4 linked regions of the Homo sapiens genome follow. The protein of the gene in region 3 purifies or fractionates together with the protein of the main gene of each other region. This does not show direct contact. Each region holds a gene or a part of one and is shown on either strand. Other genes may lie near its edges. The genes, in order: GJA1, LATS2, USP9X and WWP1.

Region 1 (7,743 bases), on a different chromosome or scaffold from region 3:
ACCCCAGAAACTTATCTTTTGAAAAAGGGATACCAGCACAAGTGGTAATACGATGAGAAATCTTCACTGCTCTGAAAGATGTAATTGACCAACAGTCACATAAAGAACACATTTTCTGGCAAGTTTTACCAATTTGGGTAGAGCACTTCTAAACTTGCAAACTTATGACTTCCAAATTAACTTTTACTTCTTTCTTGCTGTCTGGTAAACGTTAGTTAAAATGGAAATTTGGTGCATAGAAAGGATTATTCTGATGCGAAGGAAAGGAAATCTGTAAGATAATGCCATCTTATCTCATTACAAAATCAACCTACACCCGCCTAGTCTCAGATAGTCTTTCTATTCTTCTACAAATGCCTTGAATTGCCCCAGAGGGATTGCAAATTTTCTGATTCTTCTTCACTTACTTTCATCTCAGCCAGCTGATAACCTTAGCTACTTTGAGAAAATACCTTCAAACCCTAGTTTCATGCGGCCTATACTGTCTGAAAACATTTTCTTTATGTTGCACTCATTCTCTTTTTAACGGAGTAGCTGTCCTTTCAAAGTTAACTACTCCTCCAGTGCACAAGTAATATTTTCCCACAAATAAGCCCACTTGTAGCTATTTTAAATACCTTTCCCTTTCCCAGATGTTACCTTGCCTCTTTTTTCATTCTTTTTGTCTGCATTAAATGAGGAAATCCACCAAGGCTGTGTGTGTGCTTTTTGGTACACTGCCTATATCCCATCTCTTAGTAATTTCATCTGTACCTGTGGCTTCTAATTACAAATCTTTTTTTTTTCTTTCTTTTTTTTTTCAGATCCTCTCACCTCAGCCTCCTGAGTAGTTGGGACTACAGAGGCCTGCCACTATGTCTAAATAACCTTTTTATTTGTTGTAGACACAGGGTCTCCCTATGTTGCCCAGGGTGGTCTTGAACTCTTGGGTTCAAGTTGTCATCCCACCTCAGCCTCCCAAGTGCTGGGATTACAGAGTTGAACCACTGTGTCTTCCCAATCACAAATCTTATAACAATTTTTTTTTTTTTTGAGACTGAGTCTCACTCTGTTGCCCAGTTGTAGTGCATTGGTGTTATCTTGGCTCACTGCAACCTCCACCTTTCAGGTTCAGGCAACTCTCGTGCCTCAGCCTCCCGGGAGGCTGGGACTACAGGTGTGTGCCACCACGCCCAGCTAATTTTTGTATTTTTAGTAGAGACGGGATTTCTCCATGTTGGTCAGGCTGGTCTCGAACACCTGACCTCAGGTGATCTGCCCGCCTTGGCCACCCAAAGTGCTGGGATTACAAGCATGAGCCACTGTGCCCCGCTGTAACAATTTTAAAGTGAACGCCACAGCTCCTGTTTTAAATTGTCAGTCATCGGTCTTTACCTAGATATTTCAGTTCTTCATACCAAAATATTTCAAACAAATCTTTGTATCTCTTTCAGCAGGTCAGTCCCTCCCCGAGCTTCCTTTTTTTGTGTTAGTAACATTTTCCCAATCAAAACTCCAAAAATCGGTTTCCACAGCCTCCTCTTCCTTGTCTTCCCATTCATCCATCATCAAGTTCTGGTAATTCTACCTTCCTTTCCTTTCTTTCTGCTAGTATTGCCTTTCAAGTTCCTATAGCTTACTGCTCTCCCATTACAATACTCTTCTTACAAGTCTAATCCGGAGCCACCAATTATTTAACGTTTATGCTACTCAATGAGGTGAAAGTAATCCATCAGAGTTTATGTGGGATAGGCATTTAAAGGCCTTAAAAATCACTCCATTCATTTCTTAAAATTTCAGAAATTCCTATTTTGAAACAAAGGTAAAAATCCAAAAAAGGAGGTGGTTCTCATATTAAGAAATATTTCTCACAATTCTGAAAAAAACTTACCCTCCATTGTGCCAACAATGTGCATTTTGCAAAATATATATAGCTACATGGAGAAAACAGAATCAAAGGCCTGGCAGGTCATTTGGCCTAAAGAAGCCCTGCAGAAGACAGAAACTGTAAATAACTGTTTCTAGTTCTCCAAAGAGCAGTGTTAATCAGGCTGCATCCATTTCTTCTACATAGACAAGGTCTGGCAATCAGAGAAGACACAGTTCTAGGAAGTCAGTGTTTATATTAAAGAAATGGCATTGACATTTCTGAGAATATGAGAAAAACACATTTAAAAAAAAAAAACTATTCCACAATTTTTGCAAAACATTCCAATGGAGACAAGCTTCTAAGGTCAGATAAGTGAGATACTTTTGAACAATTTTGCTATTGATAAAAATATAACTCACCAACACTGCTAGAGTATGAGTTATAATAGAAGTTGCTACCTGTCATTTAGAGACCCTGTTAGTTGTCCATGAGAGAAAACTGTGGGGCCTTTTGCAAAACCTAGTTTGTCTTGCACATGATTACTCATAGCATTGCATTTCAGTGCCATTATCCCAAAAGAAGAGAAGCTTCTTCAGAATGTCTTATCAATGATATTTTCATGAAATCATGTTGAGATCTTGTATCAATGATCATGGAAAAATGATTTTAGAAAGAAAAGACATAGTACGTTCATGTATTAAGAGAAGTAACTAATTACTGGCTCATGCTATGAGTAATTCCTTTGGCTCAGAAAATAGTTCAAGTGATATCCATGAATAATTTAACTTGTTATAAGGAAGTTCTTTAGCTCTATTTCCAATTGGTCACATAGGTAATAGATTAAAAAGAAAAGAATACTTTACAAGAATATTTAAACATCAACATTCATCTATAGACCTAACAAAACATAACAGAAATAAACACAATTTTTTTTGCTTTAAAAATCCTATTATAAAACAGTCAATGACAACTTTTCTTTCATGTAACTTATTCTGAATTAGCATCATGGTAATGTTTTTTATAATTGTAGTTGATAAATAATTTTACAAAAATAAATTGTTATGTAAATTAAATGAAGCATACTTTTTTGAAAAGAAGACATGTATTTTCTTACGATAAAAAGAATAAATCATTTTCATGAATATGTTCTAAGTCCAATGAAATAATTTTTAGTTAAGACAAAACAATAGATTTATTTAAAGAACAATATAAATACAAGACCAAAACAACATTTATAGGTTGCTGAACCTGAAGACTCGAAAGTCAGGTTACAATTTCTACTTCCAGAAGATTGTTTTTCCCCTTTCTTAATTTAAAGAAAAATGTACTCTTGGAAATAGGATAGCCAACAAGTAAAAGCAAAATTGTTCCTTAAAATTGCAACATTTGGGCCCAGCGCGGCGGCTCACGCCTGTGATCCCAGCACTTTGGGAGGCGGAGGCCTGTAATCCCAGCCACCCAGGAGGCTGAGGCAGGAGAATCACTTGAAGCCGGAAGGCGGAGGTTGCGGTGAGCAGAGATGGCGCCACTGCACTCTAGTTTGGGCAACAAGAGCGAAACTCCGTCTCAGAAAAGAAAAAAAAAAACCTGCAACATTTCAAAAGATGTTATATTAGTCATTTCAGTGAAAGTTTAATTAGGGAACGGTGTCTACCAGAATATATTTGGCATCCTTCTTTTTTCTGGTATTTGCCTGAGTGAGAAAAGTGTTAGGAATAGGAAGGCCAGATGAGTTTGCTTTCCCTCCAGAGAATACTGGCCAAGAAATTTCCTGTCCAACCTCAGGAGCATCACTGAAGCCTGTTTATGAGGAATTGTCCTACCACAACACTGTGTTATGGCATTTGGGAAGCCCTCAGAGGAGCTGCCTGCTCTAAGATTGAGGCCACATGACTCAGGCCATTATAAACCCTAATGCAGAGCCCTGAAGAGGGAGAGCATTTGGAAGGGGATAGGGAAGCACATAAAGATGATATGCTCAGCTTTACTGTCGTTGGGCAGAAAACTCTCTAGTGGGCTTGAGAGGGGGAACTGATTTTAAGGAGGGCTGAATAGTTTGGGAACCTACTTAATGCAACCATAGTCTGTATTTTTAAAATCCTCACATTTCACTACAGATTTGGGTTTTAGTGTCTTGGCATAAATAGGGCCTTAATATAAATTCTTAGTTTTCTGGAGACATGGTAGAGGTCAGATATCAAGATTTCATAGGCAAACAAAACATGCTATATATGTAAAAAATGTATATACACACACAGCCTTTTGCTAAACTGAAAGAAAGTAAAAATTCAAAGCAGTCAAGGGGTTGAAAGATGGATTGGGTATGGACTTTTCTTCATCTATGTCAATTTTTGAAATCTCTCTCCCATCTCCACCATTCCCTTTGTTAATTGTCCTTGCTTACATTTAAAGGAAGGGAATTAGATCATCAAACAGGTCACTCACACCTACCTCTAACTTCACACACCTTGGTCAATGTGAAACAAGCTTGAACTGGTTATATGCTTCCCCACCATTTTTATTTATTGTAAGCTACTTTAAAAATTTTAGACAATGTTGTAATAAAAATATACACCTTTTTCCCCCATTATCCCTGGTCTTCTGGTGAAGCAAGCAGTGTAATCAATGATTCTTATGTGTGAGGAGCAACTCCAAGTAGAGGCGTTCATGTCCCTAATGCTTTTTTATTTTTCCTCATCAGCAAATTTAAACTACAACTTTATCCTGATCCCACTGCTGCTCTTTGCCTCTTCTCCCCCCAGCCCTTCCACATTTACCAGCCTCCTCCCTACCTCCTCCCAGCCTTTCCCTTTGCCCTCCCCTTTCTTCTAGCCCCTCCTCCCAGTTGAGTCAGTGGCTTGAAACTTTTAAAAGCTCTGTGCTCCAAGTTACAAAAAAGCTTTTACGAGGTATCAGCACTTTTCTTTCATTAGGGGGAAGGCGTGAGGAAAGTACCAAACAGCAGCGGAGTTTTAAACTTTAAATAGACAGGTCTGAGTGCCTGAACTTGCCTTTTCATTTTACTTCATCCTCCAAGGAGTTCAATCACTTGGCGTGACTTCACTACTTTTAAGCAAAAGAGTAAGTTTTTAAAAAATGAGAACACGTTACCTATTAGTTTCTTTTTCTACAAGTAAAACTTTTCTAAAGTTTTAAAATGTGTTAAATGTAATTTTGAATTATGATACTGTAAATGGATTGATGGATTTGAAAGTGTTTCTATAGTTTTAAAGTTAAAATTTATTGTACCAAATATATATTTTGACTGTTAAAAAAGTTTCTATTAACATTGCAACAGGTGAAAAGGTTCAAACCTTTCCGATTAGAATAAAGGATTAGTTTACTGGATGTTTGGTTTTTCATTTTAGAGTATCATTTTATTTTGTTTTTTTTTTGTAATCAGTAATAGTCTAGGTGCTATCATTTGTTGGGTGGGGGGGGGGCGGTTAGGCGCCTGGGTTGGGGGATTTGACTGACTACATCGGAAAAATCAAAGTGCAAATTTGCTTAGCGTGCTTCCTATAGTATTCTACACTTCATAGAATAAAGTGCTTTTTTCATATGGAAATCTTGATTGATGTTCTATAGCTTTGCAAAGCCAACTTCTTTTGTGACGAAGTGCTTTGTTAAAACATCGTGGTTACTTGACTTCCACGTGGTTCCTTCCTAGAATTTTCCCCATTAAACAAAAAGGTATAAAATTCAAGAGTATTAATATTATGCTTTAAAAATCAACAGTAAATTGTTACTTTGTGTTAGCAACCGCTATGGAAAGATTTGAGACCCTCAGGAGAGACAGCTTTTACTCGACCACGTTGGCAGTTTAGGAGATGAAATCTCTTGAATGGGTGGTGGCTAGTTACAGAGCATTAGAGATCAGACGTTTAAAAAAGAGTGTATGCCAGGGTACTTTTCCAAAACCGTCTCCTAAAACGGGAGCTCCTAGAAAGAGCAGGAAAAAAACTTTCTTAAACAGCGCTTTGGGAGCTCCCCCCGCCAACACCCGCCGCCCCGCACCTTCCCTCTGCTCGAACCTGTAACAGAATTCAGAACTCTGGGGCAGTTCTTTGGAGTTGGAGCTCCTAGGGCAAAGATAACGCTAATGCGTTGTTTAAAAGGGTTCAATTTTTAAAATACTTTTATTGGTAACACCCATTCTGTTCATCAGAAATGCAGCCATGCATTTTTGTGCCCGGTAAAGATTTTCTGTTCTGTGTAAATCTACAAACTAAAATAATTAGTTTAGATTCTTGACGTGACCCTGCAGTGGAAGTATTTGCACCAGTGAATGCTGAAAAGCAAATAAAAATGAAAGCTTTGCGGAGGCCGTGGGCCGGACGGGCGCGGGGCGCCTCCTGCCATCTTAGCGTCTGCCGGGATCCTTCCCGCGCCTTCGCTGCCCGAACCAGCTCGGTCTTGGGACGTTTCCCCCAAATCCTCACAAGTCAAATCGAACTCAGGTCCGAGTTCGTCACTGCAAAGGAACCCGGGGTGCGGGGTGGGAGGGATAGGAGGAGAGATGGGCTGGGTGCCAAATGGTAGAACAAATGGTTGATTTAATTAAAGTTGTCAATCTAATTTCCCATCCCTCTCACACCAGCCCTTTTTTTTTTTCTTTTTCTTTTTTCCTCTTAAACTTGCTGAATCCCACTATCTCCGCGTTGGTAAGAAAACCTGAATACCTTGGGAATTGTGCTTAAATTGCACTTGCAACTCCCCTGGAAGTTCCTGAAACTTCCCGAGAATGAGGCGGGGCGGCTCAAGGGGAAAGGGCAGGGAGGAGAGACCCTCGGGAAGCTGATGACGCGTCCGGGGCAAGTCAGCCTGTTTCCGAGACGCGCGCCTCACGGTCGTAGCAGCGCTGCGCCCACCCTGCCCCTTTAGTGACCCAGCCAGCCTTTGCTGGGGGTTTCTGATAACGCTCATCGATAAGCTCTCCTTGCTCCCAAAAGGCGTGCTTCTCTTTCTCTCCAGGTACAAAGTAGGGGTGGGAAGGGGAGAGCTACACAATGTTGTAAAAAGAAGCGTGGCTTTATTTGGAAGACGGTTGAATTTCTTTTGCTTCCTCGACCCAGTTAGTAACGACAAGAAAGATACTGAATATCGCCCTCCGAAAATCGGGCGCATTTGAACTCGGTGAAAAGTGTCCCTGTGAGGAAGCCTAATGTTTACTTTTGTGCAAGGATAACTGGAAATTAAAGCGTCTAGTAATGCAGAGATTTCATTAAGCGAGCGCTCCCCTCCCCCCCGCGCCAGGAATGAAATAAGCCAGTTAGACAGAAAACACTTTTGGGAGAAGACTAATTACTTCTGGGTAGGCCGAATTGACTGGAAATTATACCAAGCAAAGGCAGTACATTCCATTCCGTCCTGGCGATGTTGATTCTATATTATTAGAACATTGTTCCCCCAGTGTGGGGGTGCTTTGTACTTCCCAAAGTCAGGGTAGACTGGTTACCTGGGAAAATGCAGTGTTAGTGCTTTGCTCCTACTTTCTTCACTGTTTAAACATGTTCCACATTTTTCTAATGCCTTCTGAGGGTTCTCAACCCAGCCACTGAGTTCCTCACCCTTGGCGACTGTGATACCAACAATGCTGTCACCCTCCTTGGGAAACATGGTTGCAAAGATGCTCCGCAGGAGGCAGATAAAAGGCTGTGCTTTCAGATACTGAAGGTTGCTTTGTTACTTAGATGTTTCCAATTCCTGCATAGAGAAGGAGGGAAAACACGGGGTGCATTCTTTCTTTTCTTTTCTCTACATCCAGGGGTGTAGCTTGGTTTGAGCCTTTATATATGATACCCGCAGGGAAGGGAATGATAGGACAGTCACCAGTGATTAATACCTTCCACTCCGCCTTTCCTGTTGTTCTGACTTATCTTCAGGATTCTCAG
Region 2 (7,034 bases), on a different chromosome or scaffold from region 3:
CGGTGTGGGGACAGGCTGAAGACCCTAGAGCAGAGGGCGCGGAAGCAGCACCAGAGGTGCCTGGCACATTCACTGGTGGGGACTCCAAACTACATCGCACCCGAGGTGCTCCTCCGCAAAGGTACATGCGCCATGGCCAGCCACCCCGCAGGAGGTCTCCTTCCCTTCAGACGTGAGCTGAGTCTCGCTGGCTCTAGCTTTCCAAGGACCTAATGCTTCCAGTCATATTTTTGTCCTCATAGAAGCCTGAAAGCTACTAATTTCTGCAACATACAAGCCTCCCTCCTGTCCTGGAAGTGCTCTTGCTTCAGGGGGTTGGAAGACATGCACCATTAGACCAGTGTCTGCTGGCCCTCGGGCTCTACCTAGACCCAAGGGAATGACTCCAGCCCTGATTTTCACAGTCAGATGATGGAAACCACTCTGAGGGCCACAGGACCTCTGCTCAGTCTGCCCAGACCACACATTTCCGGGCTCTAGCTTTAACTTCTGTCTCAGGCTCCTGGCTGAGTTGTGCCGTGTGCAGCTGGGTGCTTATGTGACAGCGTTGGAAGATCCTTTTTCTCTCATTCTCCCTGCTAGACCATAAGCAAAAGTGGCAGGTGCCAGTTGTGTAAAATGACTAGTGCTCATAACATTTGCCTCCTGGATGGATGCTTCATTCTGTCAAATGCAACATCTGGTTCAGTATAGGAGGAATCCTTCAGTGATCCTGCATGGTCCACAGTGACAATGGGGTGTAATTAATCCAGAGACAGGCAGCCCCTGCCATCACATGTTGTTTAAAGTCCTTTGGAGCCAGCCAGACTCAGTTCAAGTCTGGGTTTTCTTTGCTAGCTGTGGTAATCCAGCACAAGTTACTTAACTACTCAGACCACAGACATAGCAATAACGACCTTGAGAGGTTGTGAATAACCTTGGTGCCCAGTGAAGGTCTACTTCCCTCTACCACGTGCAGCATTCTCAAGAAACCATTGCTTGGGGTTTTTCTGCAGCCTCTGTTGCCAAACTTGGACAGGAAGAGGTGGGACGGAGAGATAGCAGAGGGGCCTGAGGGGGCTACCCTGGCATATGCAGCTGCAGGCACCCGCAGACTGACCTCTTAACATCCCAGTTTATACTTAGCAAGGATTAGGTGACATGAAGACGATCCTGGCTTGATGGGTCATGAGGCTCTGAAGGAAAAGTGGGAGAAAATAAGAGGTAAACGAGCCTAGCCTACAGCCTCCCAGAGGCCAGCCCTGACCCAGCACAGCTGGGAGCCCCGTGAGGAAGGCCCGGCTCCGTAGGGGCCTCACACAAGGAGTGTTTGGCTTACAGTGAATTGTCCGGTGGGTTTTGCCCACCTCCTCCTCATCTCCGTATTCTTCAGCTTCATCCAAAACTGACTTAGAAGCCTCCCTTGACCCTCACCTGACTATTCACAGGTTATAGCACTTTATGTTTTTCAGTTCTGTTATTTTAATTGGTGCCTCTGTTTGTGATCTTTAAGAACATAAAATTCTGGCTAGTAACTATTTGCTAACAATAAAAATAATCTTTTTAAATTAAAAAGTATTTTCTTATTACAATGATTAAAAATACAAAAACCTAAGCGGCCATGGCCACCGCCCCCCACCACCCCACCCAGTAGTATCCAGGTACTTACATAGGTCCATCTTGCGCACAGTGCGATGCTTCAACGCGCTTTCCCACTTAACAGGAAATCTGTATGTTCAGCATCTTAATGAAATTCACCTCGGAGGAGAATTCATGCCTGTGTAGGGATTGAGTGAACTTTGTCTTGCAGGGTACACTCAACTCTGTGACTGGTGGAGTGTTGGAGTGATTCTCTTCGAGATGCTGGTGGGGCAGCCGCCCTTTTTGGCACCTACTCCCACAGAAACCCAGCTGAAGGTAATGTGAGAGGAACCACGCATCTGCTTGCTGTAGACATCTGATTTGCTCATGTACCCATGAATCTTTGGTCAGCATTTGCCCTCTTATTCTGAGTAGGGTAGGAATGGCAGTTGTATAGGATGGGATTTTTAAAAATAATCTCATTATTTTTTAAATTATCTATTTTTAAATTTTCTATTTTGATAAGCAAAGCCATGGAATTGGACCCATTTTAATATCTGAAATTCTATTAAACCCTTGGCCATCTGCCACCTTGCTATTTCCAGGCAAGAACAGTGAGGATCAGCAAAGGTGTGCTGCTGATCCACTGTCTCCCCCACCCACACCTGCCCTGCAGAGAACACACGGAACTCCAGGAACTATAGTTCACCCCTCAGCAATGAGGGGTTTGGGGTGCCAAACCCCCTGCACAGTCAAAAATCTGCATAACTTTCAACTCCCCAAAAACTTTACTAATAGCCTGTTGACTGGAAGCCTTACCAGTAACATAGCGTCAATGAACACATATTTTGTATTTTATATGTATTAGATCCTGTATTCTTACAATAAAGCAAGCTAGAGAACAGAAAATGCTGGCCAGGCGCAGTGGCTCATGCCTGTAATCCCACTACTTTGGGAGGATCATAGGCTGGGCGCAGTGGCTCATGCCTATAATCCCACCACTTTGGAAGGCCAAGGTGGGCAGATTACCTGAGGTCAGGAGTTCAAGACCAGCCTGGGCAACATGGCGAAACCCGTCTCTACTGAAAATACAAAATATTAGTCCATCATGGTGGTGTGCACCTGTAATCCCAGCTACTCAGGAGGCTGAGGCAGGAGAACCACTTGAACCCAGGAAGCAGAGGATGCAGTGAGCCGAGATCACACCACTGCAGTCCAGCCTGGGTGACAGAGTGAGACTCTGTCTAAAGAAAAAAAATCATAAAGAAGAGAAAATAGGTTTACTATTTTAATAATTGAAAGTGGATCATCATAAAGGTCTCCATCTTTGTCATCTTCATGTGGAGTGGGCTGAGGAAGGGGAGGCATTGGCCTTGCTGTCTCAGGGATGGCAAAGGTGGAAGAAAATGCTAGTGTAAGTGACCCTCAAACTGTGTTGTTCAAGGGTCAACTGTATCTAAAGAAAGCAGTTTCTTTATTTGGATATTATATCATTGTTCGCAAACTGTCAGCTATGTGGTCAGGCTAGTTGTGCATATTCCTAATATTCATTCAAAGTAGTTAAATAATTGTCAGTCATTTAATACTAAATTATTAGTTTTAAAATGACAGCCATTTGCTTTCTGAAATGAGTTACTAAGGGTTGAACTGAGAATTGAAATTAAGAATCTGCAGTCTTCTGTGGACATACCAACTGACACACAGTCCTTGGAATTTTCACATGCCCTGGTGGTCATGTGAGCCACCAGGGCATGTGGTTATTAGGCCAGGGAGCCTAAATTAATAACTTTAATTAGAAAATCTGTCTAGTAAGGTTGGGCGTGGTGGATCATGCCTGTCATCCCAGCACTTTGGGAGGCGGAGGCGGGCAGATTACGAGGTCAGGAGATCGAGACTAGCCTGGCCAACGTAGTGAAACCCCGTCTCTACTGAAAATACAAAAAATTAGCCTGGCATGGGGGCGGGCGCCTGTAGTCTCAGCTACTTGGGAGGCTGAGGCAGGAGAATCGCTTGAACCCAGGAGGCAGAGGTTGCAGTGAGCCGAGATCACGCCACTGCACTCCAACCTGGATGACAGAGCGAGACTCTGTTTCAAAAAAAGAAAAAAGAGAAATCGAAAAACCCTAAAGTAAGGCTTAGTTTCACTCTAGGAACAGTAAAATTGGAATCTGGCATTATCTGCGCCCTAATTGAATGGCTGAGCTACTCACTAAATTGCCCACATGATAATTCAGATTTTTTTATTCTGGTAAAATATACATAACATAAAATTTACCATCTAATTATTTTAATGGTAAATTAAAATTTACCATCTAATTATTTTAATGGTAAATTAAAATTTACCATCTAATTATTTTAATGGTAAATTAAAATTTACCATCTTAATTATTTTAATTACCATTTATTTAATAATTATTTTAATTATTTACCATTTTTAATTATTTTAGTGTATAATTCAGTGACATTAAGTACATTCACAATATTGTGCAACCATCACCACCCTCTATTTTCAAATGTGTTAATCGTCCCAAACCCATTAAACAGAAACTCCCCACTCTCCTTTTCAGCACCTGCTCGCCTCTCTTCTGCTTCCTGTCTCTGTGAGTTTGGTTATGCTTAGGACTTTTTTTTTTTTTTTTTTGAGACAGGGTTTTGCTCTGTATCCCAGGCTGCAGTGCAGTGGCACAATCTTGGCTCATTGCAACCTCTGCCTTCCGGGTTCTCATGCCTCAGCCTCCCAAGCAGCTGGGATTACAGGTGCCTGCCACAACACCAGCTAATTTTTGTATTTTTAGTAGAGATGTGGCTTCATCATGTTGGTCAGGCTGGTTTCAAACTCCTGACCTCAAGTTATCCACCCACCTCAGCCTCCCAAAATGTTGGGATTATAGGTGTGAGCCACTGTGCCTGGCCTCGGGACTTCTTGTAAGTGGAGTCATGCAGTATCTGTCTTTTTGTGTCTAGTTTATTTCACTTAGCGTAATGTCCTCAGGGTTCATCCATTGTTGTAGCTTCCTTTTTAAGGTGGAATAATAATTCCACTGTATGAGTCCCTGCTTCCGGTTCTTTTGGATATAAACCAGAAAGTGGGTTTATATCCCACTGGATTATATGGTCGTTCTGTGTTTAACTTTTTGAGGAACTCCCAAACTGTTTGCCATAGTGGCTGCACCATTTTACATTCCCACCAACAGTGACTGAGTGTTCAGTTTCCCTACATCCTCAATAAGTATTTTCCTGTTTTTGTTTTTTTTAAGTAGTAGCCACCCTAGGGGATGTAAGGTGGTATCTCATTGTGGTTTTGAGTTGTATTTCCCTAGTGTTTAATTATATTGAGCTTATTTTCATGTCCTTATTGGTCATTTGTATATCTTTGGAAATATCTCCTCAAGTCCATTACCCTTTTTAAATCAACTTATTTGGTTTTGTTATTGTTGTTGAGTTGTAGGAGTTCTGTATTTTCTCTGGGTACTAACCCCTTTTCAAATACATGTTTTGAAATCTGTTCTCCCATTTTGTTGCCTTTTTGCTATCAGTAATGTCCTTCGATGCACAAAAGTTTTAAATTTTTATGCAGTCCAATTTATTTTTTCTTTTATTCCCTGTGCTTTTGGTGGCATGTCTAAGAAATCATTGCCAAACTCAGGTTCATGAAGATTTCACCCTATGTTTTCTTCTAGGAGCTCTACAGTTTTAGCTCTATGAAAACAACTACTTAGGTTCAAACCAAGCCTACCACCCACACACCCACTAACTTCCATGCCTTATCCGCTGTCCCATCACCCCAGCTGGTAGCCAGTCATGTTGGCCTTGTTTCCTCCTGATTCTAAGTGTAAACAATAAAGAAGTCCCCTAGGTTTTGTCTTCACAGTAGACACATCTCTACAACAAGTGCATTTACTGAACGTCCAGATGGCTGGTTTGTGCAGTTGAGCATGTAAGGTCACATGGGGTCAGTCAGCTTTATTCTTCCCTATGAAGTTTTTCCTGTTTGTTTTTCAAAACCCCAGTTGGCCGTTTTTTGACCGCAATAAGTATTTGAATGAGCGTCATGATGGTTTGCAGAAAGCCATTGCCATAGCTAAAGAAATAACTTTAGCTGATCACCTGAGGTCAGGAGTTCAGGACTAGCCTGGCCAACGTGGTGAAACCCTGTCTCTACTAAAAATACAAAAATCAGCCGGGTGTGGTGGCAGGCGCCTGTAATCCCAGCTACTCGGGAGGCTGAGGCAGGAGAATCGCTTGAACCCAGGAGGCGGAGGTTGCAGTGAGCCAAGATCGCACCACTGCACTCCAACCTGGGCAACACAGCGAGACTCCATCTCAAAAAAATAAAAAGAAAGAAAGAACTTGTAGACCATCATTCTCTTCATTTTTGTGGAAAGCACAAAATTCTTTGGCTAAACAGTATTTCTGATAGAAGAAAATCAGTATCTTTTTGTCTGTATTTGACTGGTCATCCTGGCCTCAGGCTGTGAGCCATCGACTGAAATGACACTGACTTTTTGTGGCTGCTGAGATCAACAACTGCTGCTTGTGTCTATTCTAACTCCTCTCCTATTGTGAAACTAAACATATTTGAAAGTCACGTCATCACACGCTGTCCCAGAACTGCCCAAGATGTGAGGAGAAACTAACCTGTTGGCTCTGTTGTTTCCTCAGGTGATCAACTGGGAGAACACGCTCCACATTCCAGCCCAGGTGAAGCTGAGCCCTGAGGCCAGGGACCTCATCACCAAGCTGTGCTGCTCCGCAGACCACCGCCTGGGGCGGAATGGGGCCGATGACCTGAAGGCCCACCCCTTCTTCAGCGCCATTGACTTCTCCAGTGACATCCGGAAGCAGCCAGCCCCCTACGTTCCCACCATCAGCCACCCCATGGACACCTCGAATTTCGACCCCGTAGATGAAGAAAGCCCTTGGAACGATGCCAGCGAAGGTAGCACCAAGGCCTGGGACACACTCACCTCGCCCAATAACAAGCATCCTGAGCACGCATTTTACGAATTCACCTTCCGAAGGTTCTTTGATGACAATGGCTACCCCTTTCGATGCCCAAAGCCTTCAGGAGCAGAAGCTTCACAGGCTGAGAGCTCAGATTTAGAAAGCTCTGATCTGGTGGATCAGACTGAAGGCTGCCAGCCTGTGTACGTGTAGATGGGGGCCAGGCACCCCCACCACTCGCTGCCTCCCAGGTCAGGGTCCCGGAGCCGGTGCCCTCACAGGCCAATAGGGAAGCCGAGGGCTGTTTTGTTTTAAATTAGTCCGTCGATTACTTCACTTGAAATTCTGCTCTTCACCAAGAAAACCCAAACAGGACACTTTTGAAAACAGGACTCAGCATCGCTTTCAATAGGCTTTTCAGGACCTTCACTGCATTAAAACAATATTTTTGAAAATTTAGTACAGTTTAGAAAGAGCACTTATTTTGTTTATATCCATTTTTTCTTACTAAATTATAGGGATTAACTTTG
Region 3 (7,034 bases):
TGCCCCCCGTGATGCACTTTGCATTTTCCCTATTATAGCTATTAACATATTTTATGGCAACTACATTATTTGCTTCTATATCCCATTAGACAATCTTATTTATTGCCATATTCCCAAAAACATAATAAAAACAGGTCCACAACCTCTTATCTGAAATCCTAAGATTCCAAAAGCTATTTTAATTTTTAATTTTTTTTAAGATGGAGTCTCGCTTTGTCTCCCAGGCTGGAGTGCAGTGGTGTGATCTCAGCTCACTGCAACCTCCGCCTTCTGGGTTCAAGCGATTCTTCTGCCTCAGCCTCCTGAGTAGCTGGGATTACACGCATGTGCCACCACGCCCGGCTAATTTTTGTATATTTAGTAGAGACGGGGTTTCACCATGTTGGTCAGGCTGGTCTTGAACTCCTGACCTTGTGATCTGCCTGCCTCGGCCTCCCAAAGTGCTGGGATTACAGACGTGAGCCACCGCGCCTGGCCCAAAAGCTATTATTATAACAAGTTTTTTTTTTTTTTTTGAGACGGAGTCTTGCCCTGTTGCCCAGGCTGGAGTGCAGTGGCGCGATCTTGGCTCATTGCAACCTCTGCCTCCCAGATTCAAGCCTCAGCCTCCCGAATAGCTGGGACTACAGATGCCCGCCACCACGCCCTGCTAATTTTTGTATTTTTAAGTAGAGATGGGGTTTCGCCATGTTTGCCAGGCTGGTCTTGAACTCCATACCTCAGGTGATCCGCCTGCCTCGGCCTCCCAAAGTGCTGGGATTACAGGCATGAGCCACCTCGCCCAGCCCAACAAAGTTTTTCATTAAGTTGCTGTCAAAATGTGGTTGGTGGGATAACCTAGCCCAAACTGACTAAAGGCTACTTATAGTCTTTATTTCTCCCTTCAGTATAAATATTCATATTTTACTGTAGAAATATTAATGTGTTCAATTGTAAGTTGTTGTCTCAGACCCTGCTATAGAGATGTTGGTATATGCACTGCCTTGCTTTTCTTAAATCCAAACAATTCTCAATCCCAATGCATATCTGATCTTAAGGACTTCATATTAAGGTTTACAGGCCCTACAGTATTTGTTTTCAGCAGGAAAATTTTACAAGTAGGTTACATTATGGAACAATGATGTGTGCTTTGTGAACAGGCAATATCTAAAAGAGTTGAACAGAATAGGATTCTTCTGAATGTCTAAATTTGGCATTTTTAAGTTTGAAATACAGATTCCACTTATGCTTGTCTGTGTAATAAATATTCTCTTTCTCATCTACAAATACCCAAATATCTGCAATTACGGAAAAGACAAGGGAAAAGAAGACAAACTAAATAGACAAATGAAAAGTACAATCTCCCTTATGTTAAAAGGGCCATGGATCCAATGGTGATTAAGTAAGATCACAGAAAAAAAACCTGAAACGACAGGTACGCCTGGATATAGAACTTCATTTTGGATATATGACTTTTTGGTTTGTTTGCTTTTTGGAGACAGGGTCTCATTCTGTTGCCCAGGCTGGAGTGCAGTGGTGCAATCACGGGTCACTGCAGCCTCAACCTCCTTAGCTCAAGTGATTCTCCCACCTCAGCCTCCCAAGTAGCTAGGACTACAGGCATATGCCACTACATCCAGCTAATTTTAAAATTTTATTTTGTAGAGATAGGGTCTCCCTATGGTGCCTAGGTTAGTCTCCTGGGCTCAAGCAATCCTCTTGCCTTGGCCTCCCAAAGTGCTGGGAGTACAGGCATAAGCCATTGTGCCCGGCCCCTAAATTAATATTTTAAGCGAGTATTTATATTATCCATAATTGTAGTTTACTTAAACAAAAACTTATGTACAGACCAAGTCTGCTATCTAAATTTGGTGAGTATCACAACCATTTGGGGACCCCTTTGAAAACATGGATTCCCTGACATTAGCTTTGGGGATGCTGATTCAATCAGTGTGAGAAGAGGCCTAGAAACCAGTATTTTCCAAAAGCAGCCAGATTTGGCACCACTGCATTAGGAGATTAAAAAAAAAAAAAAATCAAAACACAGATTCTGACCTGTGTCTACCACAAAGACACATGCATAAACAAAGTAAAAGGTGAAAGTGCCATGTTCAGATAAAATTCACAACAGGTTTTATGGGAAATTGTTTCTACTTCAGATCAGATTATATTTCATCACTTGACCTAAATGACTTCACAATTTAATATGATACATCAAAACAGAATTCTGAAAAACTTAAATTCTTACCTAAATTGGCATACATTACAAACAGGTTGAAATACTGCTGTAAATGACGCCCATGCTCTGAAACTTCCCTTCTCAAGAGATTTAGTACTGCTCTTAGTAAGTGATCACTCAAGCTTAAGTTGTCATAAGCCTGTAAAGGATAAAACATTACCTGTTTTACAGCAACAAGGTATATGTATACTTCTACTTGCATAAAAAGGACATGCACATATGCTGATACAGGCATACATTTATGGAAGGACTGATCACACAAACTAAACTATTTTGCTTCTTGGGAAAGGGAATGAAGATCAGAGGCGGATTTCATTATAATTTTTTACACTTGTAATTTTTTAAAAAAATCTAAGACTATTTAAAAAACCTTCAAAATAGGAAAAAATCTACTTAACAGTAAACTTATAATTAAGCTACTGCATGTAACCGAACAGAGAAAATTCTCTTACATTTTTAAAGAGCCAATAATTACTATTCATTGCCATGCAGTAATATTAAATGGAACTCACTGACATCATATTGTGTGTTTCTGTTAGGTAAACATATCAAGTGGATGCACATATGCTTGTGACTTCGACTTCCAGGAAACACAATTTATTTGTAAACATCTCATCATTTAGAAAGAAAGCTGTGCAATTACCTGACTAGAAGGTCCAGGAGAGGCAAAAGGTGAAGGACATGGCCCATCTTGCAAGGAAAAATGTGCAATAAAGACTATAAGTTTTGCAAACGCACCCCTCACTTCTGCACTAGGGCACTCCAGAAGGTATTCGGAGAAGCGATTTGAAACATTAAAAAGGACGTTATGAGCAAACCAAAAACGTACATTCTTGCTGTGACGAAGGAGAATACACAATGCATCATACCTAAAATAAAACAAAAAAACCTATGACTATTAAGTCAATAACTTGTTCTCTATAGTAAAAGGATGAGTCTCATTGAACCAAAAAAAAAAGACAAAGATCTTCCTCTACTGCTGGAGAGAACCAGCAAAGGTTGCTTCTAATATTAAAACAATAGATAAATACTATGACTTGGTCTATTCTCTCAGAGTTACCAAACAGGTGAAAGCTTGTCCTCTAAAAATCCATTAACAAACTCTTCCTAGATTCAATGACAAAATACCACCCCCTTATCTTGACATATTCCTGAAATGAGTAAGTAAAAATTATTAAATCAATGTATCATAATGGCCTCTATACTTTCACAATTAGAAACTTAAGAAAACCATTTTAATTTTTTACCCTTTTAATCGGTGTCAGAATTCAATCTAGGTAAGCTAAAACCTAATAAATTTCATAAGTAGCTTACACTTTTCAGTCTCATCTTGTAATCTTTGGTTTTGTTTGAGACAGGGTCTTGCTCTGCTGCCCAGGCTGGAGTGCAGTGGCACAGTCATGGCTCACTGCAGCTTCAACCTCCCAGGCTCCAGCGATCCTCCCACCTCAGCCTTCCGAGTAGCTGGGATTACAGGTGTGCGCCACCATACTTGGGTAATTTTTAAAATCTTCTTTGAAGAGATGGGGGTCTCACTATGTTGCCTAGGCTGGTCCTGAACTCCCGAGCTCAAGCAATCCTCCCACCCTGGCTTCCCAAAGTGCTGGCATTACAGGTGTGAGTCACTGTCCCCCAGTCTCAGCTTGTAGTCTTTGGTGCAGGGATGTCAAAGATATGATACAAGGTAATAGAAGCAGAAGTCAGCTTCTGAATAACAAAAGGCCATGTTTAGACTAAGTAACTATTTTAATATGATTTCTCTATTGTGACCCAGAGTTTTTATTCTATATTCCAAACTTCAAACAAAATTCTCTTGGTTTAGAAAAACATAAAGCAATCTATTAAAGAAGCAAACCAAACATTAGTATAATAGGAATGAAAATCCAAAGCAATGTACCAATCACTGGCAGAGCCACGGACTACTTTCTTTGTGTGAAATCCTGTAGTAAAGAGGAACCTAGCAGCAAGTTGAATACTGATCATAGTGATTTCTTCTGCTTCAGGCAACAGGTGATCTTGCCCTATAAATAAAATGCAGATATAAAAACACATTTTTATTTTCCAACCCCATTTTCAAACAAGTCTGTGTTTCCATTAATTTTGAGAAGTCCTAAATTTGTTAAGAACCCTTCTCAGGCTACTTTAATTTAGACCCATTTATTTTTTTATTTTATTTTTTTGAGATGGAGACTCACTGTCACCCAGGCTGGAGTGCAGTGGCCATCAATTTGGGTCACTGCAACCTCCACCTCCCAGGTTCAAGCGATTCTCCTGCCTCAGCCTCCGGAGTAGCTGGGACTACAGGGAGTAGCTGGGACTACAGGTGCATGCCACCATGCCTGGCTAATTTTTATATTTTTAGTAGAGATGGGGTTTCACCATGTTGGTCAGGCTGGTATTGAACTCTTGACCTCAGGTGATCCACCTACCTCGGCCTCCCAAAGTGCTGGGATTACAGGCGTGAACCACCACACCCAGCAAATTAGACTCATTTAAAGTGAAAACATTAATTTTATGAACTTAAACATGTTGACGCCTACTATAAATTATTCTTTATTACTAAGAAGCTAAACTCTCTTGATACTCACCGGGAGGAGGGTTTAAGTAAACGCCATTACATGTAAGCAGTTTTTTCATAAACTGAAAATACTCCATACTGTACTGCATTCGGTTATGCATGAATTGTACGTTCTGTTTCCGTACACTTCTCTCAATGGCTGATGGCATAATAATCTGATGAGGTCTGGTGGTGATAGCAAGCTCTGATATATATCTTATCAACTCATCATCTTGGTCTATTGTGTCCATTCGTTCATAAAAAAGTATATAAGCATTCCACCACCTTTTCTGGCGCCTGTATGACATACGCTTCATCATGTGATCAAACACTTCTCCCATGTACTCTCCACCAAAACACTGGTTTTTCATTTCTTCGTCATCATCCATTTTACATTCTGTTACATCACCATCATCAAATTTATACCAGCGATTTCTCTCACCATCTCCACCATTCCTTTGGATGATGTAAGAATAATAATGCCCCCCACTCGCTTGACCACTGTGTACGAGCACACCCACAAGTCTGTATTTTGTGCTTCCTGCTGTCTCACTTTCAGACTGCTCACTCTGTTGTATCAACTGACTCTCTGGGTTTACATTATCCCCTTCCAGCTTTGCGACACCTGCAACTGTGTAAGGTTCCATGTCCAGCTCTCGAGGAAATTCAAAATAATCATTGAACTTGATTGCACATTCTCTTTCCCAGTCATAGTCAAATCGCTTTAGTTGTATAGCAAGAACAGGAGGTAATTTTTTAATCAGCAAGCGCTTTACGGTATCAACCTAAAATAAACAAGACAAAGTTACCAGATGTTCTATTAAAATCCACAGGAAAAAAAAAAAAACCCCAAGCAAACTTTTAAATGATATTAAGACTTATCTGAATTTTTAAGTATAAACAAATACATGACAATGAGCATAATCAAGATAATCCTATCAGCTGATTTAAATGCTGAAATTAATAATATGCAAATGGTAAATTGTTGACTGGTTTCTGTCATTGTTATCTAGCCATTATTACCTGTTTGATGTTTACTGTTGTTCCCACGAAGGTGGTTTCCTATGCACAAACCAAAGAACTACAATAACAATAAGAGTAGCTAATATTTGTTGGGTAATTCAGATGCCAGGTAATATATACTAAGTGCCGCACAAGTAAAAACATACCGAATCCTTACAACCTTCTCAAGTGTGTACTACTGAACCTTAAAAGATGAAAACTAGTAATCACAGAGAGGTCAAGTAACTTGCCTCAGGTCTCAGGAGCTGCAGGTGGCAGGCAGTATGGCTTTACAGCCCACAATCTCAATCTTTAAACTTCAGGACTTCTCTAAGTGGTGCATAAGGCCAAAACAACACAAGTGACTTGAGGGTGAAAGGGTTTGGGAGCTCCCAAAGATACACCTTATTCATTACTATAATGCGTGTGAATCATCTCTCTCAAAGAACTGCTAATAAGTTTCCAAAATAAATGGTTTTATAACATAGGTGATAAAAGAAATCTTATGGGCCACTTGACTAGTCTAAAAGAAATCTTATGTGGTTCAATAAAGTAATTAATGGTTTCAGCAAATGTTTTGGTCTTGACAAGTAATCCTGGACATGACAGGAGAAATGTTTTCCTCTATCAGCTCTGTATCTTTGAGGGGTTCAATGGCAATTTGTTTCTCGGTAGAGATGGAAAGTGTCTGTGTAACTTATATAAGAGAATGTGCTATCACGTTATGACTTTTAAAATTATTCACTCTTATTTACCTATTTTTATCTTATTTACCTAGCCCCTTTGGCACTACTTTTTTTCCTTCCTTGCCAAACCTTCTATTAGTTATCATATTGACTACTTCTCTGCTACCACTATACCAAAGTAGGAGAAAATAAAAATAGGGTGACTTGTGAGGATGAACCAAAAAAACCAATTTCTTCTAAATCCATTAAATGTAATCAAAATTAAACAAAACTGGACAGCCCGTACCTTTTTATTGCATTTTTCACAATGATATGCATTTGCACCTTCTAGTAAATCTCCTTTGACATACTGTTCCAAAGAATCAAGAAGATTTTGGTGATTTCTAATGTCTACGTTTAGGGTCGTAAAAGATTCTTCACATTCGTACCTAAAAACGATTTAAAAAAAGGATTTATCCCTTAGTTTTGTAAACATTTTAGTTATGGACTTAATGTAAACTACATTTGCCTTTTTTTTTTAAATTATACTTTAAGTTCTAGGGTACATGTCCACAACGTGCAGGTTTGTTAC
Region 4 (7,034 bases), on a different chromosome or scaffold from region 3:
GCCTCAGTCTCCCGAATAGCTTGAACTACAGGCGCTTGCCACCACACCCGGCTAATTTTTGTATTTTTTTTTTAGAGATGGGGTCTCACTATTTTGCCCAGGCTCGTGTTGAACTCCTGAGCTCAAGTGATCAGCTTGCCTTGGCCTTCCTAAGTGCTGGGATTACAGCGTAAGCCACCCTGCCGGGCCTACTGGGAGCTTTTTAAAACAGTAGAACCTTCAGGTTCTTCTGTGTACTGATAAGAACTCTTACTGTAGAGATATGCTGTATATATACAGAAACACAATATTACATTTGTGTTGTGGTTTACAGTTTACAGAGAATTTTGACTAATGTTATTTGCTATTATATTACACAATAAACTATTCCTGGAGTTTAAATGATTTGCCTGAAGCATCATTCAGCTGGTGGGTAAAGTGGAATCAGGAGATTGTTGACAATGATGGTGTTCTTTCATGTATGAAGATAATGCAGTGGCTTTACCATCAATTAAATATAGTTACTGCCTTTAAATGACCTTGTCAGTAAGACTAGATGATCCCACAAGATTCCTTCTAGTTTTTAACATTTTGTGATTCTCGAGTCCTAGACTTTCATCAGAGTATCTACTCTCCTTGTTTAATATGTGCATGAGAGCTGGTGAGTCTGAGGGATGAATTGGGTAGAGAAGAGCAGTTAGCAATATCAGATCATTCATTTGGATTGTTACTTTCTTTGTATGTCTCACTTTGGGCTGGGGAGTAGGGAGGAGAGAGGTGATGTAAGTGAAATAAGAAACTTTAAGAACTTTATTGGGAGGCTGAGGCAGGAGGATGGTGTGAACCCGGGAGGCGGAGCTTGTAGTGAGCCGAGATTGCGCCACTACACTCCAGCCTGGGCAACAGAGCGAGACTCTGTCTCAAAAAAAAAGAACTTTATCTTCTCTGTTCATTTATACCTTCAGAATATTCTTTTCTTTCAGGAAGCCTTTATCAAATAAAAATGGAGACTTCACAATGTAAATGAAGATTCCTACTCAATTTTTTTTGGGTGGATTAAGTAGCTAGCTAGTACGGTTAAAGTGTAGTGCGATTGGTAAACAGTTGACTTTTCTGCACCTGTAAGATTATCTCCCTGGTAATAGGTAATCATAGCATGTTATTACATGTTAATAAACTTTGATTTCATAATTATTAGAAAGACTGTTGTTTTTTACTCTTTGTATAAAAATATGATACAATTATAATGAGCATTGGAAAATCCAATAAATTGCCCTTTATAGTGGTATCCAAGGAACTAGTTACTAATACTTAATGGAGGAAAAATGATAAAAACATACACAGATGAATTTTATTGTTTTTGCTGGCATTAAGAATTGTACTATACCTTATGTTAGTATAGCATTTCACATTTGTAAATAATAACTATATTTATCATTTGGTTCTCATGACAACTGATAAGTTGGTGTGTTAGGAAGTAATAACTGCTTTATATTTTATTTTATTTTATTTTATTTATTTATTTTTGAGACAGGGTCTTGCTCTGTTGCCCAGGCTGGAGTTCAGTGGCACAGTCATGGCTAAACTGAAGCCTAGACCTCAGCCTCCCAAGTACTTGGGACTACAGGTGTATGTCATGACACCCAGCTAAATTTTTAAAATTTTTTATAGAGATGGGGTCTTGCTGTGTTTCCTCAGGCTGGCCTCGAACTCCTGGACTCGTGGCCCTCCCACCATGGCCTTCCAAAGTGCTGGAATTACAGGCGTGAGCCATCGCTTCCAGCCAATCATTGCTTTTTGGATGAATATGCTGAGGCTAAAAAAAAAGTTTAAAAAGTTAAATTTCCAAAGTATGTGGCTAGTTAGTGGCCACAATTAGAACTACAACTAAAACCCTTATTTTTGTTCCTATGTCAGTATTCTTTTCCCACCAGACTTCTTACTCTTCATGTACAATGGAACATCATTAGTTAAGAGCTGTATGTGAAGGATTTGAATTTACCTGTTTGGAATGTGTTAAACTTTTGTACCGTGTAGAGGTAAACTTGTCAGTTTTTTCCTTTGTGTTAAAATGGTAATCTCACTGCAGTGGCTATTGGTAGGTGATATTTAAATTTGTAAGCATTGTACCACAGAATAGTTATTCTCCTGTCAAGGATAAAGCAAAAGTTGATTTCTTATCTGGAAAAGTACATTGGTGAAATGTAGATATTTATTTTTTTGAAAATTTTGAATTTAATTCTGTTGCTTTTACAGATGAAGTTTGTGTTTCCCTTTTATAAAAGCTTAGTCTTCAAAAATTTACATTTTTTGAGGATATAAATGAGGATCTAATTTCCAAAATATATATAGATTGGGTATCCCTAATTCAAAGTTTGAAATGCTCCAAAATGGGAAACTTTGAGCCACCTACATTACTCAACAGAAACATTCACTGGAGTATTTCAGATTTTGGATATTTGGATTAGGGATACTCAACCTGTATCATGATATTTTATTATTTTTGTATTAGATCATAAGCTCTACCATTGAAAAAAACCCAAAGATATTAAAAAGCCCTCCTTAGTGGATGCTTCAATTCATACATTTAAACAACTTTTTTAGGGAATGTATAATGTAAAACCATACGTCAGATGGTTTTTAAGTTATAAGGAAGACTAGCATGGTTTTTAAGTTATAAGGAAGAGTAGCATTTGTTGATTTAGTCTTGACATTTCTTTTTTCTTTTTTTTTTTGAGACGGAGTTTCCCTCTTGCTGCCCAGGCTGGAGTGCAATGGCGCAATCTTGGCTCACTGCAGCTTCCGCCTCCTGGGTTCAAGAGATTCTCCTGCCTCAGCCTCCCAAGTAGTTGGGATTGCAGGCATGCACCACCACACCTGGCTAATTTTGTATTTTTAGTAGAGACGGGGTTTCTCCATGTTGGTCAGGCTGGTCTTGAACTCCAGACCACAGGTGATCTGCCCGCCTCAGCCTCCCAAAGTATTGGGATTACAGGCATGAGCCACCACGCCTGGCCGTCTTGACATTTCTTAAATCTACAGTTCACTCACAGCACATACTGGCGTACCTACTATGTGCCAGACATATTTCTAGGTGCTGGGAGTACAGTGTTGAGATGACAGATATGAAGCCTTTCCTCTTGGAACCTGGAGTTTAGTGGAATCACTAACATTAACAAGGGCATAGAACTTTATCTTCTCAGGTTGTAATTTTGCGGAGTGTAATTAATTATACCTCTCCTTTTTCTGGGGTTTGAACAAATTATGCAGAACACACAAGGAACCAGGTGAGTGTTGTTTCAGTTATGTACTGCTGTGTAGCAAACAGCCCTAAACCAAGTGACTTAAAACAACCATTTTCTTTGTTACAGTTTTGCTTTCCTGGGTTGGGCTCAGTTGGGCAGGTTTTGCTGGTGATCACTCTAATGGCTGCTTTTCTCTCCAAGTAGCCTTTCCAGCAGAGTTGCTGGCCTTACCTGGTAGCTGATGGCTTAGGGCTCACAAGAGTACAAAACAGAAGCAACCAGATCTTTTTTTTTGAGAGGGAGTCTCACTCTGTCACCCAGGCTGGAGTGCAGTGGCTCAGTCTTGGCTCACTGCAACCTCCACCTCCCAGGTTCAAGCAATTCTCCTGCCTCAGCTTCCCGAGTAGCTGGGATTACAGGCGTGCACCACCATGCCCAGCTAATTTTTGTATTAGTAGAGATGGGGTTTCACCATGTTGGACAGGCTAGTCTGGAACTCCTGAGCTCAGGTGATCTGTCCGCCTCGGCCTCCCAGAGTGCTGGGATTACAGGCGTGAGCCACCGTGCCTGGTCTGCAACCAGATCTTCTTAAGGTTTAGACTTGTAAGGGATACAGTATCATTTCTGCCTTATTATACTGGTTAAAGCAAGTCACAAATCTAGCCCAGGTTCAAGGGTACAAATGTGTGAATCCATTTGGGGCCACCCATGTAACAGATTACCATAAATTTTATTTAAGTATAACATCAGCTTTACTATACCAAAACAGGACTTACGGAAAACTGTTTTGGAAGCTGAAGCTTAGGCAGCTTACTACTTTCCGCAAATCTGGATTTTGAGTCTGAGCATGCCACAGGGAAAGCTGAGTCTAAAAAGTGCAAATGACAGCACATCTGGCTTACTACGCAAATGGGAATACCTAGCACTCTCCTTGGTTAGAAAAGAGGAGAACATTTGTGGCCTCTGAGGTTTTTCCTAGTGTGCCACCATAATAGGGTAGGATTGACTTGCCTTCTGCTTGAGGGCAGTGGGATCTAACAAAGTACAGGACCCAAGAGTCCATGCTGCTTGGAAGTAGTGATTTACCCGATCTCGTGAATTGGAACAGACAGCATCCCATGCAGAAAATGGGCCACAGATGGGCAGAGATCGATTCCCTCTGCCCTTGTGATTGGATTTGAGACCTAGGGGAGAAGGGTTTCTTGACTATCACTCTGGCCTTGACCAGAGTGAGCAACCTGTCCCCCACGCGCTCCAAGCCCCAATGGCATTTTCTGTTTGCAGTGTCTTGAAAAAGCTTGGGATAAGCTACTCTTCCTTGGAGAGGTGTCATTATAGTGGAGAGAATTCTCTTTCCTTCTAGAGACTGGAATGGTAATCCTCTCTTATGGAAATACAATGAATAAGGTGCTGCTTCTCCTTTCCAAGAACAGGTAGATTCATTGATTGCTATCTGGGTTTTTCTCGCATTATCACTTAACCTTATCCACTATCGCTTTATTTTAGTCTTAGCAGTATTTTTTGTTTGTTTGTTTTTAGTTCAAGTTGGCTGCTAAGTAATGCCATGGTTAAAGGTGAAATGAAGAAAATGAGTGTTTAGTTTTTATTACATTATAGCTTCTGAGTGGAGTAGTGAATGCATTTCATTTTAAGAATTTAGGTTATTAGTGCATAGCTGCGAAGCATTTTTGAAGCATTTCATGTACACTAAAAAACGGGCCCCTGCATCCTAATGCAAATCTCTTTGCAAATTTCTGAAAATAGTACATTGGCTGTTGCGGGGAGGAGTTTGGTAATTGGATGTACTGAGAAACATGATTTATAGAAATAGGAAAGGCCAGGGCACAAAGAAGGGCACGGATAGAGTTACATGAAGGTGCTTCTTGATGGCTGTCCTCCCTACCCTAAATTATTTGGGTAGTTAAAAAATATCCTAGCATTAACAGAATGTAGGTATGATAGCCTTTTAGGAAACAAGGAAAACAAGTTCTTTTGATAGCTGTTCAGTATACTCATAAATCTGATTGACTGGGCTGGGTGGAAGCTGACTGTTGAGTCCTGACTTGAAATTAGGATACTGTGGTTACACATTAGCCCCAACTTGCCAAGATGTCCTACTTTTTGTCTGTGTTTAGTTAGACTGGGGAGGAGAATTAGTTAAATGAACCTGTTTTGTATAAAGTAGGATATTCTTTACCTTAGAAGTAAACAAACTAGATTGTTCTTCTCTTTTTAAGTTTTTAACGGTAGAGGCACTTTTGGCATACAGGTTAAGAGTCACAGTTTAAAGTCAGGCAGACCTGACTTCTGGTAGTATTGCTTAATGGCAGGATTGCCTCAGTTTCTTCTTTTGTAAAATGTAAAGAATACCATCCTTAATGGATTTTTGTAAGGATTAATTGAAATAATGTTTATAAAGCAGAAAGCATGGTGGCTAGAACGTAAGCCCTTAAATCATGTTTATTGCTCGTAATTCAGTATTATGAAGTTGAAAATTCAAACAAGTATTCACTTTGCTGTGAGCTACTCATTTCTCAAAGACAGTTCTAGCTTCGTTTTGGCATGGGCAGAGCTCCTTATCAAATTTCCACCCCCAGCTTTTTTTTGAGACAGGGTCTCCGACAGCTCTGTCTCCCAGGCTAGAGAGCAATAGTGTGATCATGGTTCATAGCAGGCTTGACCTCGGGGGCTCAAGCAATCCTCCCACCTCAGCCCCACAAGTAGCTGGGACTACAGTTACGCACTAACATGCTCAGCTAGTTTTTTTTTTTTTTTAGTAGAGATGTTGCCCAGGCTGGTCTTGAATTCCTGGGCTCAAGTGATCCCCCCTACCTCGACCTCCCATAGTGCTGGGATTTACAGGCATGAGCCACCAGGCCTGGCCAAATAAACAAAAAAAAAGTTGCTAAAAGGGTAAGCACGAAATCTGGGATACTGACTTAACATGGCTGGCAATATATCAGCTAGTGATGGTTTTGCTGTGCAGCCTGGGAACAAGAAATCATTAACACCATCATTAGATGAAATATTGTATTGACCAGTGTTTGTCAAAGCGCAATCCTTATATAACAGTCGTCTGGGATGCTTATTAAACATGTTGATTCTTGAGTATCCTTTGAGATCTCTGATATGGTCCTTGAGAGTGGAGCTTAGGGATCTTCATTTTTTGCAAATATCTCAAGAGATTTTATGCACATTAGTTTGAGAACTGTTGGTAGAAACTGAATTGGTTATTTGGGGTCCTAGTGTGCTCTGTCAGAGTTCATTTTTCTAGCTAGCTAGCTAAAATATTCCTTTTTTTTTTTTTTTTTTGAGAAAAGGTCTTGTTCTGTCACCCAAGGCTAGAGTGCAGTGGCAAGATCATGGCTCACTGCAACCTTAACCAACCTCCTGGGCTCAAACGATCCTCCCACCTTAGCCTCCCTAGTAGTTGGGAGTACAGGTGTGTGCCGCGACACCTAGCTAATTTTTTATTTTTATTTATTTATTTATTTATTTTAAGACAGAGTCTTACTGTCACCCAGGTTGGAGTGCAGTGGCGCTATCTCGGCTCACTGCAACCTCTCCCTCCCAGTTTCAAATGATTCTTGTGCCTCATCCTACCGAGTAGCTGGGATTACAGGTGCATGCCACCAGGCCCAGCCAATTTTTGTATTTTTAGTAGAGACGGGATTTTACCATGTTGGCCAGGCTGGTCTCGAACTCCTGGCCTCAAGTGATTCACCCGTCTTGGCCTCCCAAAGTTCTGGGATGGATTATAGCCATGAGCCACCGTGCCCTGCCTAATTTTTTATTTTTCTTAGAGATGGG

Evidence for each region.
Region 1: the proteins of USP9X (region 3) and GJA1 purify together in Homo sapiens (affinity purification with western blotting; 2 studies listed by BioGRID, with this or other methods). This does not show direct contact.
Region 2: the proteins of USP9X (region 3) and LATS2 purify together in Homo sapiens (affinity purification with mass spectrometry; 4 studies listed by BioGRID and IntAct, with this or other methods). This does not show direct contact.
Region 4: the proteins of USP9X (region 3) and WWP1 purify together in Homo sapiens (affinity purification with western blotting; 2 studies listed by BioGRID and IntAct, with this or other methods). This does not show direct contact.

The regions. Positions count from the first base shown.
Region 1 is NC_000006.12:121,430,903-121,438,645, forward strand, and holds the start of GJA1 (gap junction alpha-1 protein), read left to right. Parts: upstream 1-4,743; 5' UTR 4,744-4,930; intron 4,931-7,743. UniProt on the Homo sapiens protein: Gap junction protein that acts as a regulator of bladder capacity. A gap junction consists of a cluster of closely packed pairs of transmembrane channels, the connexons, through which materials of low MW diffuse from one cell to a neighboring cell.
Region 2 is NC_000013.11:20,974,553-20,981,586, reverse strand, and holds part of LATS2 (serine/threonine-protein kinase LATS2), read left to right. Parts: coding exon 1-121; intron 122-1,789; coding exon 1,790-1,896; intron 1,897-6,222; coding exon 6,223-6,717; 3' UTR 6,718-7,034. UniProt on the Homo sapiens protein: Negative regulator of YAP1 in the Hippo signaling pathway that plays a pivotal role in organ size control and tumor suppression by restricting proliferation and promoting apoptosis.
Region 3 is NC_000023.11:41,214,425-41,221,458, reverse strand, and holds part of USP9X (ubiquitin carboxyl-terminal hydrolase 9X), read right to left. Parts: intron 6,892-7,034; coding exon 6,750-6,891; intron 5,561-6,749; coding exon 4,807-5,560; intron 4,240-4,806; coding exon 4,116-4,239; intron 3,088-4,115; coding exon 2,862-3,087; intron 2,358-2,861; coding exon 2,228-2,357; intron 1-2,227.
Region 4 is NC_000008.11:86,345,522-86,352,555, forward strand, and holds part of WWP1 (NEDD4-like E3 ubiquitin-protein ligase WWP1), read left to right. Parts: intron 1-7,034. UniProt on the Homo sapiens protein: E3 ubiquitin-protein ligase which accepts ubiquitin from an E2 ubiquitin-conjugating enzyme in the form of a thioester and then directly transfers the ubiquitin to targeted substrates.